3 linked regions of the Homo sapiens genome follow. Changing the gene in region 3 together with the main gene of any one other region gives a genetic interaction. Each region holds a gene or a part of one and is shown on either strand. Other genes may lie near its edges. The genes, in order: CHD1, PLA2G4C and PIM2.

Evidence for each region.
Region 1: changes in PIM2 (region 3) and CHD1 together harm fitness more than expected from each alone (negative genetic interaction), as found in Homo sapiens cells (one large-scale study listed by BioGRID).
Region 2: changes in PIM2 (region 3) and PLA2G4C together harm fitness less than expected from each alone (positive genetic interaction), as found in Homo sapiens cells (one large-scale study listed by BioGRID).

What each region holds. Positions count from the first base shown.
Region 1 is NC_000005.10:98,853,430-98,856,102, reverse strand, and holds the end of CHD1 (chromodomain-helicase-DNA-binding protein 1), read left to right. Parts: 3' UTR 1-2,118; downstream 2,119-2,673. UniProt on the Homo sapiens protein: ATP-dependent chromatin-remodeling factor which functions as substrate recognition component of the transcription regulatory histone acetylation (HAT) complex SAGA. Regulates polymerase II transcription.
Region 2 is NC_000019.10:48,107,959-48,112,175, forward strand, and holds the start of PLA2G4C (cytosolic phospholipase A2 gamma isoform 1 precursor), read right to left. Parts: upstream 2,860-4,217; 5' UTR 2,558-2,859; coding exon of another isoform or gene 2,529-2,557; intron 1-2,528. UniProt on the Homo sapiens protein: Calcium-independent phospholipase, lysophospholipase and O-acyltransferase involved in phospholipid remodeling with implications in endoplasmic reticulum membrane homeostasis and lipid droplet biogenesis.
Region 3 is NC_000023.11:48,916,097-48,920,362, forward strand, and holds the start of PIM2 (serine/threonine-protein kinase pim-2), read right to left. Parts: upstream 2,929-4,266; 5' UTR 2,739-2,928; coding exon 2,678-2,738; intron 2,550-2,677; coding exon 2,440-2,549; intron 1,736-2,439; coding exon 1,685-1,735; intron 1-1,684. UniProt on the Homo sapiens protein: Proto-oncogene with serine/threonine kinase activity involved in cell survival and cell proliferation.

The sequences.
Region 1 (2,673 bases), on a different chromosome or scaffold from region 3:
CTGCCCTCCCATACAGGCTGGATAAAACTGTTTTTAAGTCAGTGATTTTAGACTGACCTCCATTTAAATTATGTTTATATATGAACTTTACTCTGACCTGTGATCATGTTTCAGGAAGGAATGAAAGAGAGTTCTTTCTTAATAAAGAAAAACACTCAAGGACTTTGTTCATTTCCAAAGCTACTTGTTTACATTGTACACTGCGACCACCTTGCCGCTTTTCATCACAAGCTTGAATATTTAAATTCTGTACTTATATCTGTAAAATAGCCAGGAATTTCCTGTTTGTGATCTATTATGCCTTTTTACAAAAAAAATGGCTGTAAATTATTGTAAATATTAAAGGAACTTTCCTTACTTCCTTCCCTTTCTCAGGCTTTTTTTGACTGTTCCTTTCCCTACCAACTCAGGCCTTCTTATTAAAAAAAAAAAAATCAGTGTAATAACACTTTTTAATGATTTGTCTTGATGGAATCATTGTTTAGAATGTAAAAATGGGGAAAGGGGCCACTTAATTCCATTAGTCCTCTTTTTATACTGAATATTTTATTAGATACATGTTATTCCCTTTTTTTTCCTTTTTTAGTCAATATTGTGTTTGTAGTTTTAAAAAATGGCGAGATATGTAAAATCTAAACTGCATGCTCTGGAAACACTTTTTTCAGATGCATCTGGTTTAAAAGGGTAGGTGTATAAACACTTTTCAGAATCCAAAACGGCCAAAAGTTATTGTAAATCCGTTTGTTTTCCCGTTTTATGTGGGCAATAATGTCAAATGTGCTATGCAGCCAGGTTAACATTTTAGATAAACTTGATTGACTTTTAATATAAACTGTTACAATGCACACTGATTGTATATAAAAACGTTATATATGACAAATTAAATTTAAGAAAAAGGATATGTGGGCTCCTGTAATTTTCTGCTGCATTCTTACTCCCTCAAGCACTTACCACCACCACCACCGCCCCCTACCCCCGTTTTTAAGTAACATTTTGCTGCCAGAAAAAGTATTTTGGTAAGCAGTTGAATATTTGTAATGTGTAGCATTACAACTAAATCTGTTTTGGAGACTATGAATATTCCTATGAAGTAAAACTTAGGTCATAGACATTTTTGTTGGCCCCTTTTGGCTTCCTACAGATATTATTATGGGATGCTTTATATTTATTCACAGATTTTTATTTTGTTTTATATTCAGCGGGAAGTTTTTAAGTCATGTGGCACACATTCTTGCATGTATGCTTTGATGTAACAAATTTGAATCTTTGACGAATATAAGTATGTGGACATAATTTCTATAGTATTGCTATGTGTGTCACTGTTAATTAGCTGTGGGAGCAACCTACAGATATTTGTCCATAGGTGTATTTTTTAATATTTTCCTTTGTCCAATTAGGTTTATGTGTATAAAAGCTTGTGGGTTTTTTTGCTTTTTGTTTTGTTTTTTGCAGTAATTTCTCTTTCTGATACAGTTACCCTGAAGAATAATAATGCTTTGTTTCTTTTCTGGTATATGAGAGAACATGTGAGGGAGTAGCTCAGTTTTTTAAACATCTAATTTATAATTAAATATAAAAGTAATGAAGGTAGTCCTGGCACACATTTTTGAAACTTTTATCACTTTTCTCTACATTTAGTATGACTATTTTATTCCACAAGATAGCATTTGACTAATTCATAATGCTTAAGTCATAAGATGGTGGCTGGCATTTTTTAATTTATTACTAAAAGCTAAGATATTTGCATTATATTGTGCAAATTTCACAGAACAATGTTGCATTTTCTGAGATAAGGCTCTAATTTTTTAAATAGTGCTACATTTAGTTGAAAGTTTCAGTCAGCTAGTTAGCTGAGTTGAATGAAAAATATAGAACTGTATGTACATTTATCAAATGATAAAATATGTTCATTTTTGTAAGAAATCAGAAAAATTAAGACGCAATGGTGAAGAACATTAGTACATAAATATAGCAGAACATTCTCCATAAAATATTCTGTTTTCATTCTGCTTTGTTATTTTTATCCAGTTATGTTTAATTTTTCAAGGGTGAGAGATTATGTATAGTACTGTACCAATTAACCTTCCACTTTTATACAATAAATAATTCTTACTAAAAGCAATAGCCTGTTTGCTTATAAAGATATTCTTTGTTTAGAGTATGTTAGAAATTAATTTTCAGACTATGGAAAATGAGTTTGAATAATTTTATTTTCAGAGTGAGTAGCTTAATGAGAACCTTTTTAATTTTATGTAATATAAATTATAATTTCTTTTTGTAGTTAATATGAAAAGGTTGAGTAGGTTATTCATTTTCATGAAGTTTATCAAGAATATGCTCTAGGAGTAAATGGCCTGATTTTTACTCTACCCCATTACTATTTCTAACTAGAAAATAATCTTTGCACCCCAAATTAGCTGTCATAGCTTTATAAATACAAATAGCTTTATAAATACAACAGCTTAAAAAGGGATAGGGATTTGGAAGAGCAACTAATTTTTAAATACAGGATTTTAAAAAACGACTTTCAGCTTCATAGGAAACTGCAAAAATATTTTAAAATATTTCTGAGTTAATATGTAAAAGCACATTAATATAGATGCCTCTATTAAATATACATTAAATACTCAATTTGAAAATGCAGACAAAACTTAGATACATTTTAGCATTGTA
Region 2 (4,217 bases), on a different chromosome or scaffold from region 3:
TATCAATCATTGGAGATGACTCACACTCCTTACTCTGCCCCTTATTATCCAATAAATAACAGCGCAGCCAGGCATTTGGGGCCACTATCGGTCTCTGCGTCTTGGTGGTAGTGGTCCCCCAGGCCCAGCTGTCTTTTCTTCTATCTCTTTGTCTTGTGTTTTTATTTCTACGATCTCTCGTCTCCGCACATGGGGAGAAAGACCCACAGACCCTGCAGGGCTGGTCCCTACAGTGGCGCAATCATAGCTCACTGCAGCCTCCAACTCTTGGGCTCAAGCAATCCTCCTGCCTTGGCCTCCTGGGTTGCTGGGACTACAGGCATGCACCACCACGTCTGGCAAAGTTTTAATTTTTTTGTAGAGATTGAGGTCTCACTATGTTGCCCAGGCTGGTCTCATTCTCCCGGGCTCATGCAATCCTCCTGCCTCAGCCTCCCAAGAAGTGGGGATTACAGGTGTTAGCTACCACACCCCACTAAAAAGCTGAGTTCTGTGTTTCACGACAGTGATATTATTTATAGAAGTAGCTGGGGAAGTTATAAATCATGCGACCCCTGGTTACGTGACTCTGGAGCACATATAGAAAAGGAAGCTAAGGGATGGCAGGTCATTCTTCAACCCACGACTGTTCTTTAGCAAAGTTCCAGCACCTTCATGATTCTAACCTTGTCTTATGAATGTGACTTCAGGCCAGGCACAGTGGCTCATGGCTGTAATCCCAGCACCTTAAGAGGCCGAGGTGGGAGGATCACTTGAGGTCAGGAGTTGGAGACCAGCCTGGCCAACATGGTGAAACCTTATCTCTACTAAAAGTACAAAAGTCACCTGGGCATGATGGCGGGCGCCTGTAATCCCAGCTACTCAGGAGGCTGAGGGAGGAGAATCACTTGAACTCAGGAGGTGGAGGTGCCAGTGAGCAGAGATCATGCCATTGCACTCCAGTCTGGGCAACAAGAGTGAAACTCTGTCTCAAAACTAAATAAATAAATAAAAAGTAAATGAATGTGGCTTCAATCTCTCAACAAGGACTGGGGGTCAGTTTTCTTTGTCTCAAAGTTTAACTATGAATTAAATTCCTCTCATGGTAATTTTGGCCTCTGCACTAGAATAAGAAAAAAAAATCTAGCCTGTGAGGTTAGAAACAAGATGGTCAGTCATGTTAGCTTTCTCTCATTACTTACATTTCTGCGAAGGCAGTTTCAAGACCCCCCTTATGAAATTAATCAGCTTCCCCCCACCACCTCCAAATTCATATGTTGGACTTGTAACCCCCAGAACCTCAGAATGTGACTGTATTTGGACATAGGATTCTTTTTCGTTGTTTGCTTTTTGAGACAGGGTCTTGCTTTGTCACCCAGGCTGGAGTGCAGTGGTGTGATCGTGGCTCACTGCAGCCTCAGCCTCCTGGGCTCAAGCGAGCCTCTCACCTCAGCCTCCCGAGTAGCTGGAAGTGCAGGTACATGCTACCATCTCCAGCTAAATTTTTTATGTTTTGTAGAGATCAGGTCTTGTTATGTCACCCAGGCTGGTCTTGAACTCCTAGGCTCAAGAGAGCTTTCCACCTTGGCTTCCCAAAACGCTGGGATTATAGGCATGAGTCATCGCACTCGGCCAGACATAGGCTCTTAAAGGGGTGACTAAGTTAAAGTGGGGTCCTGAGGGTGGCCTGGAATTTGGTTTGATTGGTTTATTTTATTTTATTTTTTTTTGAGATGGAGTCTCGCTTTGTGCCCTAGGCTGGAGTGCAGTGGCGCAGTCTCGGCTCACTGCAAGCTCCGCCTTCCGGGCTCACGCCATTCTCCTGCCTCAGCCTCCGGAGTAGCTGGGACTACAGGCGCCCGCCACCACGCCCAGCTAATTTTTTGTATTTTTAGTTGAGACGGGGTTTCACTGTGTTAGCCAGGATGATCTCGATCTCCTGACCTCAGGATCCGCCCGCCTCGTCTTCCCAAAGGGCTGGGATTACAGGCGTGAGCCACCGCGCCCAGCCTGATTGGTTTTATAAGGAGAGATTAGGGCCTCTGCAAGAGGCTTCAGGAGAAACCAACCCTGCCAACACCTTGATCTTGGACTTCTAGCTTCCAGAAGTGTTAGAAAATAAATTCCTAGCCGGGCGCGGTGGCTCACGCCTGTAATCCCAGCACTTTGGAAGGCCGAGTGGGGTGGATCACGAGTTCAGGAGTTTGAGACCAGCCTGGCCAACATGGTGAAACCCCATCTCTACTAAAAATACAAAAATTAGCCGGGTGTGGTGGTGTGCGCCTGTAATCCCAGCTACTCGGGAGGTTGAGGCAGGAGAATCGCTTGAACCCCGGAGGCGGAGCTTGCCGTGAGCCGAGATCGCGTCACTGCACTCCAGCCTAGGCGACAGAGCGAGATGCTGTCTCAAAAAAAAATAAATAAATAAATAAAATAAAATAAAATAAAAAAGAAAAAGAAATCCTGTTATTTAATTGCACCCAATCCCTGGTACTTGGTTATGGCCGCCCCAGCGGGATGAAACAGCCCTCCCTGCCCCCACGGCTTGCCTGAGCCTGGGTCTGGGGCGTGTGCGCATGCGCGGTGGAGCTTGTGCTCCGGAATCCGGTGCGGAGGCTTGGGCTCCCTGCGCTTAGCGGTGTAGTCGCTGGACAGCTCCTTCAGCCGGAATCTCCGCGGGTGAAGACTGCGGGGATCCTCGGTGCCAAAGCTTCTGTGGTCCTCCTGCTTTCCTTTTCCCCCTGTGGGAGGAGGTCGCGGGCTGGAGGTGTTTCCTCCTGGTCCTGAGCAGGGCCAACCTGGAGGTAAAATGGCCCCTGCGCCTTTAAACAGCCCTCCTCGGCTTGTAGGCCCTGCTTGGTTGCTCCAGCTTTTTCAGCTGTTCCAGAGCTCACCCGGAGCTATTTTCATCCGTGGGATCACGTGGAGGGCTGGGACTTTCCAGGCTTCCTTAGTGATGTCACCCTTCTGTCATTAGGCACCCGAGACCAGTATTCAAAAAAAGAATGTTGTCGTTATATAACTATATTGGAGATAAGTATTCCTCAAAACAGATTAGCTAATCCTCCTATGCATCTGGCTGTCTAATAACCATCATATATAATATCATACTCAAATACCCAGAAAAAGAAATATTGAGGCCAGGCGTGGTGGCTTACGCCTGTAATCCTAGCACTTTGGGAGGCTGAGGCAGGCGGATCATGTGAAGTCAGGAGTTCGAGACCAGCCTGGCCAACATGGTGAAACACCTTCTCTACTAAAAATACAAAAATTAGCTCGGTATGGTGGCGTGTGCCTGTAATCCCAGCTACTACTCGGGAGGCTGAGGCAGGTGCTTCATCCTGGGAGGTGGAGGTTGCAGTGAGCCAGATCCTTAGGGCCAACTCTGGTTCATTTAATGTCCATTTTTAGAAAACCTGTGAGCTCCATTCACAGTGAAGGTTTGAAGCCCAGAAGTGGCCTCCCAACAGGGTACCACATTTCCCAGCACCTTTGCAGCTAGGTGTGGTCATGTGAGCGAGTTATGTGGTCATGTGACCGAGTTCCAGTCAGTGCAATCGGGCATCTGTGGGGAGCACCGCTTCCAAGAGTGGCTCCTAGAAACCTCCCATACTACCCTCCTGCCTACTCTTCCTGAAGCCCAGCACTAAGCGTCATCCCAACTCGATGGGTTTTGAATTTTTTTTTTTTTTTTTTGAGATGGAGTCTTACTCTTTGTCGCCCAGGCTGGTGTGCAGTGGTGCAATCTCGGCTCACTGCAACCTCCGTCTCCTGGGTTCAAGCGATTCTCCTACCTCAGCCTCCCGAGTAGCTGGGAACATAGGCATCTGCCACCACGCCCGGCTAATTATTTTTGTATTTTTAGTAGAGACAGGGTTTCACCATGTTGGCCAGGCTGGCTCGAACTGCTGAACTCAAGTGATCCACCTGCCTCGGCTTCCCAAAGTGCTGGGATTACAGTTGCGAGCCACCGCACCCAGCTTGAATTCTTATTTTTTAAAAATAGATATGAGGCCATAATCCTAGCACTTTGGGAGGCCAAGGCAGGAGTATCACCAATTTTAGAACAGGATTTCACCAGGGGGAAGATGGTCTCCCCTGCTCCCCCTAACGCCAGGCTCACCTCTTCAGTGCCCGCAACTCCAACCATCGCAGGATCTTTTCACTCCTAGACCTGACCATGCCACTGCCCCGCCTGCGGGATAAGGTTCTACACCTCGCAGGAGCTCATGAGGCTC
Region 3 (4,266 bases):
CACTTATTGTGTAATGGTTTGTTTTGTTCACGGACGTATATGAAGCACTAGAACAGTGGCTGCTAACAGAGTAGGGCTGAATAAATATTTGTTAAACAGGTGAAAACAATTAGTAAAAAAGGACCTAGCACAAAATGAGCTCTCAATACTTATGTAATACTTTGCTGAGTGTCTAGAATTATGTCTGTCATATAGTAGGTGGTCAATATACCTAATTTGTTAAACAGCTGAGTGATTTATTACAAAGGACCTAGCACAAAAGGACTTAGTGTTATCATGTGTTTTGTCAGCATCACCAAGCACCTAGAACCAGCCAATAAAAAGCCTAAATGTGGCCCTGCGCAGTGGCTCACGCCTGTAATCCCAGCACTTTGGGAGGCCGAGACGGGCAGATCACCTGAGGTCGGGAGTTCGAGACCAGCCTGACCAACATGGAGAAACCCCGTCTCTACTAAAAATACAAAATTAGAGGCCGGGCGCGGTGGCTCACGCCTGTAATCCCAGCACTTTGGGAGGCCCAAGGCGGGCAGATCACTAGGTCAGGGGTTCGAGACCAGCCTGGCCAACATGGTGAAACACGGTCTCTACTAAAAACGTAAAACTTAGCCGGGCATGGCAGCGGGTGCCTGTAATTCCAGCTACTCAGGAGCCTGAGGCAGGAGAATCGCTTGAACCCAGGAGGTGGAGGCTGCAGTGAGCTGAGATCACGCCACTGCACTCCAGCCCAGGCAGCAGAGCGAAACTCCGTCTCAAGGAAAAAAAAAAGTCATAAATGCAGCCGGGCGTGGTGGCTCATGCCTGTAATCCCAGCACTTTGAGTGGCCGAGGCAGGCGGATCACCTGAGGTCAGCAGTTCAAAACCCGCCTGGCCAACATGGTGAAACCCTGTCTCTACTAAAAATACAAAAATTAGCCGGGCATGGTTGTGCGCTCCTGTAGTCCCAGCTACTTGGGAGGCTGAGGCAGGAGAATCACTTGAACCCAGGAGACGGAGGTTGCAGTGAGCCGAGATCGCGTCACCTCACTCCAGCCTGGGCAACAGAGGGAGACTGTGTCTCCAAAAAAAAAAAAGTATAAACGCTGGGGGCCACAAAATCCGCCCCCCACTGCCTCCCCAAGCCCTGCGCAGGTACACTTCGAGCAGCAACCTTCTGGGATGAGGTAGAGCCCTCTCCTGGCCAGGCTGCTGACTTGCACGGCAGCAGACGTTTTCTCACCGAGATGCAAAAATACCGATATTGCGCAGGCGCACCCTCTCCCTTTGGGTCCCATGGACTGCGCAGGCGCAGTTTCCCCTAGAGCCCGCCAGGGGGCGCTCCCAACTCTACAACTTGCCCAGACCCGCCCTGATGTCCGTTAGCGTTATAACGGCAAGAGAGAAGCAGCCACCATCACCATGGCAACCAGTGACCTCTGCCCCTTGTTCCCCACCAGCACGCCCTGCGGGCAGTCCCCCAGCAGTGTTTGGAGGAAGGATGGTAAAGGTTTGTTGGAGGGGAGAATCCAGGGCTCTAGGGGAATTGGGGTGAATCAGAACTGTATGTCACCCCAAGGGAGTATAAATGGGCTGGCAGTATTCTCACTGTTACAGGGCCCAGGGAGTCATACATCCCCTGGAAAAGCAAGGAGGTGAATACATCAGTGATGGAGTAGGTAGGTTAGGAAGGGCTCCGAAGGTACTCACCAAGGGGGACCAGCCCAGCACACGATTCCGGGGAATCACTTTGATGGCCACCTGGAGAAGAAGGCCGTGATAAGGAGGCCAGCAGGTGATCCCCAGACCCCTCCCAGTCTAGACCTTCTGCCTACCTCCAGTATTCCTCCATCTACCAGCACTCTAGTCTTTCTGGTCCCCAACCACAGCACCCCACAGAACGCGTACCAGGGCGTCTCCCCTGCCCTCCAGGTCCTCGGAACCAAGTTTATCTCTCCCACCTTCCTTAGCCCTGGGCTCTCCGTTCTCAGGCATCAGGACTCATCACTCCAAGTCCTGAGTTCTAGATTTCCTGATACCCCAGGCCCACAATCTTCCTATTTAGCTCTACGACACCCCAACTCTGTACCAGGGTCCTGGTCCGCATGACTCCACACTGGACACCTACCTCCAAAAGTCCCACAAATCTCACATCTAGGTCCCTGCTTTCCCACACATACACAGCCTGGACCCCGGGGTCAAGGAACTCCGGAATCTGAAGCCCCCTGCCCCCCCCCCCCGCCCATAACCTCCTAGACCGACACACACACGCGCACGCACACACACCTGGCCCTCTACACACACTGCAGGCTCACTCCTCGGACACGGACACGGACACACACACACACACACCTGGTCCTCTACACACTCTGCAGGCTCACTCCTCGGTCAACCAGCATTCCAGGGCCAGGACCCCCGCCCCCGCCACACGCACCTGACCCTCCCAAGACCCTCATGACGGATACCTGGAGTCGATCTGTGAGGCGGTGTCCTGCGAAGACGGTGCCAAAGCCCCCCTTACCCAGGAGGGGGCCGAGTCGATACTCGGCCTCGAACGCTTCCCGATCCTTGCCTCCTACGCAGGCGGAGGCGAGGAAGTCAGGGTGGCGGCGTGCTGAGCCCAGCCACGACTCCCTCCCCCCGCGCTGCAACCCATCATTCCAGCCCACCCCGTCTGGTTGCAGTAGGGGAGGATGTACTCACCTGGCGGCGGCGTGGGGGTCCCGGGGGGCGCGGGAGGCCCCTGTAGAGGCTTGGTCAACATGGAGGTGGCGCTGCGCAGATTGAGCCCACTGAACCCGCTAAGCCCGCAGGGCGTGGACGCCCGGGGCAGCGCAGCTGGGGAGCCAGGGCTGGGGGGCGCCAGGGTGGAAAGCAGAGAAACTGGTGGCCCGGAAGCGCCCGCAGACGGCGCAGCGTTGAGATTCGCCGCGCGCGCCAGCCCCAATGCTACTGAGCCTGGGCACGCGCCTCCCGGGAGAGTCACCCTGGGCGACAGCCCCGCCCACCTGGCTTTGATCAATCCGGACGCGGCACCTGCTGTACCACAGCCAATCGGAGCCAGTTCTTATTTGCATACCACCCTCATCGTTTCAAGGGCCCCCTTATGCAAATACACGCTCGGTTCTTCCGAGGAGGCGGGGCCTGCATGTAAATGAGGGGGCTTGAGGTGGGGCTCACACCAAGAGGAAACCGGTTCTGGGAATCCCTTTGCAGCACCGCGCTTGTTTTGGTTGTTGCGCGGGGTTGTTGTTGGTAGTGGTGGCGGTGTGTGTGTGTATTTACACTTAAAAAATAACTGCGCAGTATCCTTTCCTGGGAAGTTGGTTTGCCGCCGCTGCCTGGATATTAGCACAGAGATAGCGCCAGGCCGGGCTTCTAAGAATTCGCGCTTGTGGCTATCCAAGACTCCGTCTCGAAAGGTGCTTGTCGGACTCCTTCACCGGAGTCCTCCAGGCGACTGGCGGCCTTCACTGGAAAGCTGAGGCCAGGGCCCTGGAAATATCTGGTAGCCAGGGAGGGGGAACCCCTACCATCAACGCCACGGGTGTGCATTGGTCAAAGGCAGCATTGCCTGGTGAGTGTTTATTGGAGCTTTTAACCCTGAGCCCTGGGCCCAGTCAGCAAGTCTAGAATCTAGAACAGCAGGGGGTGGTTCTTGGGGGATGGGGGTGAGCCCAGAGTGGTGGTGGCATGGGGCTGCTCTTGGAGTTGAGAGAGGCAAGGACTGAGAGACATGATAGAGGCTGCTAGAGAAGTGGCAACTCTCAGACACAAATTTGTGAAAAACAGCCAGAAAAGGCGCCACACCCCAGGAAGAAAAATGCACTCCAAAGACACATGAATGCCAAGATATACACAAACACATACTGTCAGACACATTCACAGAAACGACCTAGATACACATGCAGCCAGAGACTGACATACACTTTCAGGCAAGCACACTGTCAGAAAAATAGTTATGTCCTAGAATGACACCCAGAGATACACTGTTACAGAAAGGCACTCACGCAGACCTACATTTGCCATGTGATGACACAGAAATGTCCCGTCACACTGGCAGAACTTGTCACAAACACACTGTCACCATCAGATATGCACTGTCACAGCAAGACTTGTACTGTCCCAGAAATGAGAGACGCAGAGTCTGTCACAGGAAGATGCACAGATGCTCCAGGGACACACATGCACTGCTCTGAAGGCAGACATGTACTGATGTGATAGAATCACATTTTGTGGCAGTGTCACAAAAACAGACATGGATAGACCTGTTCAGACACAGACATACATAC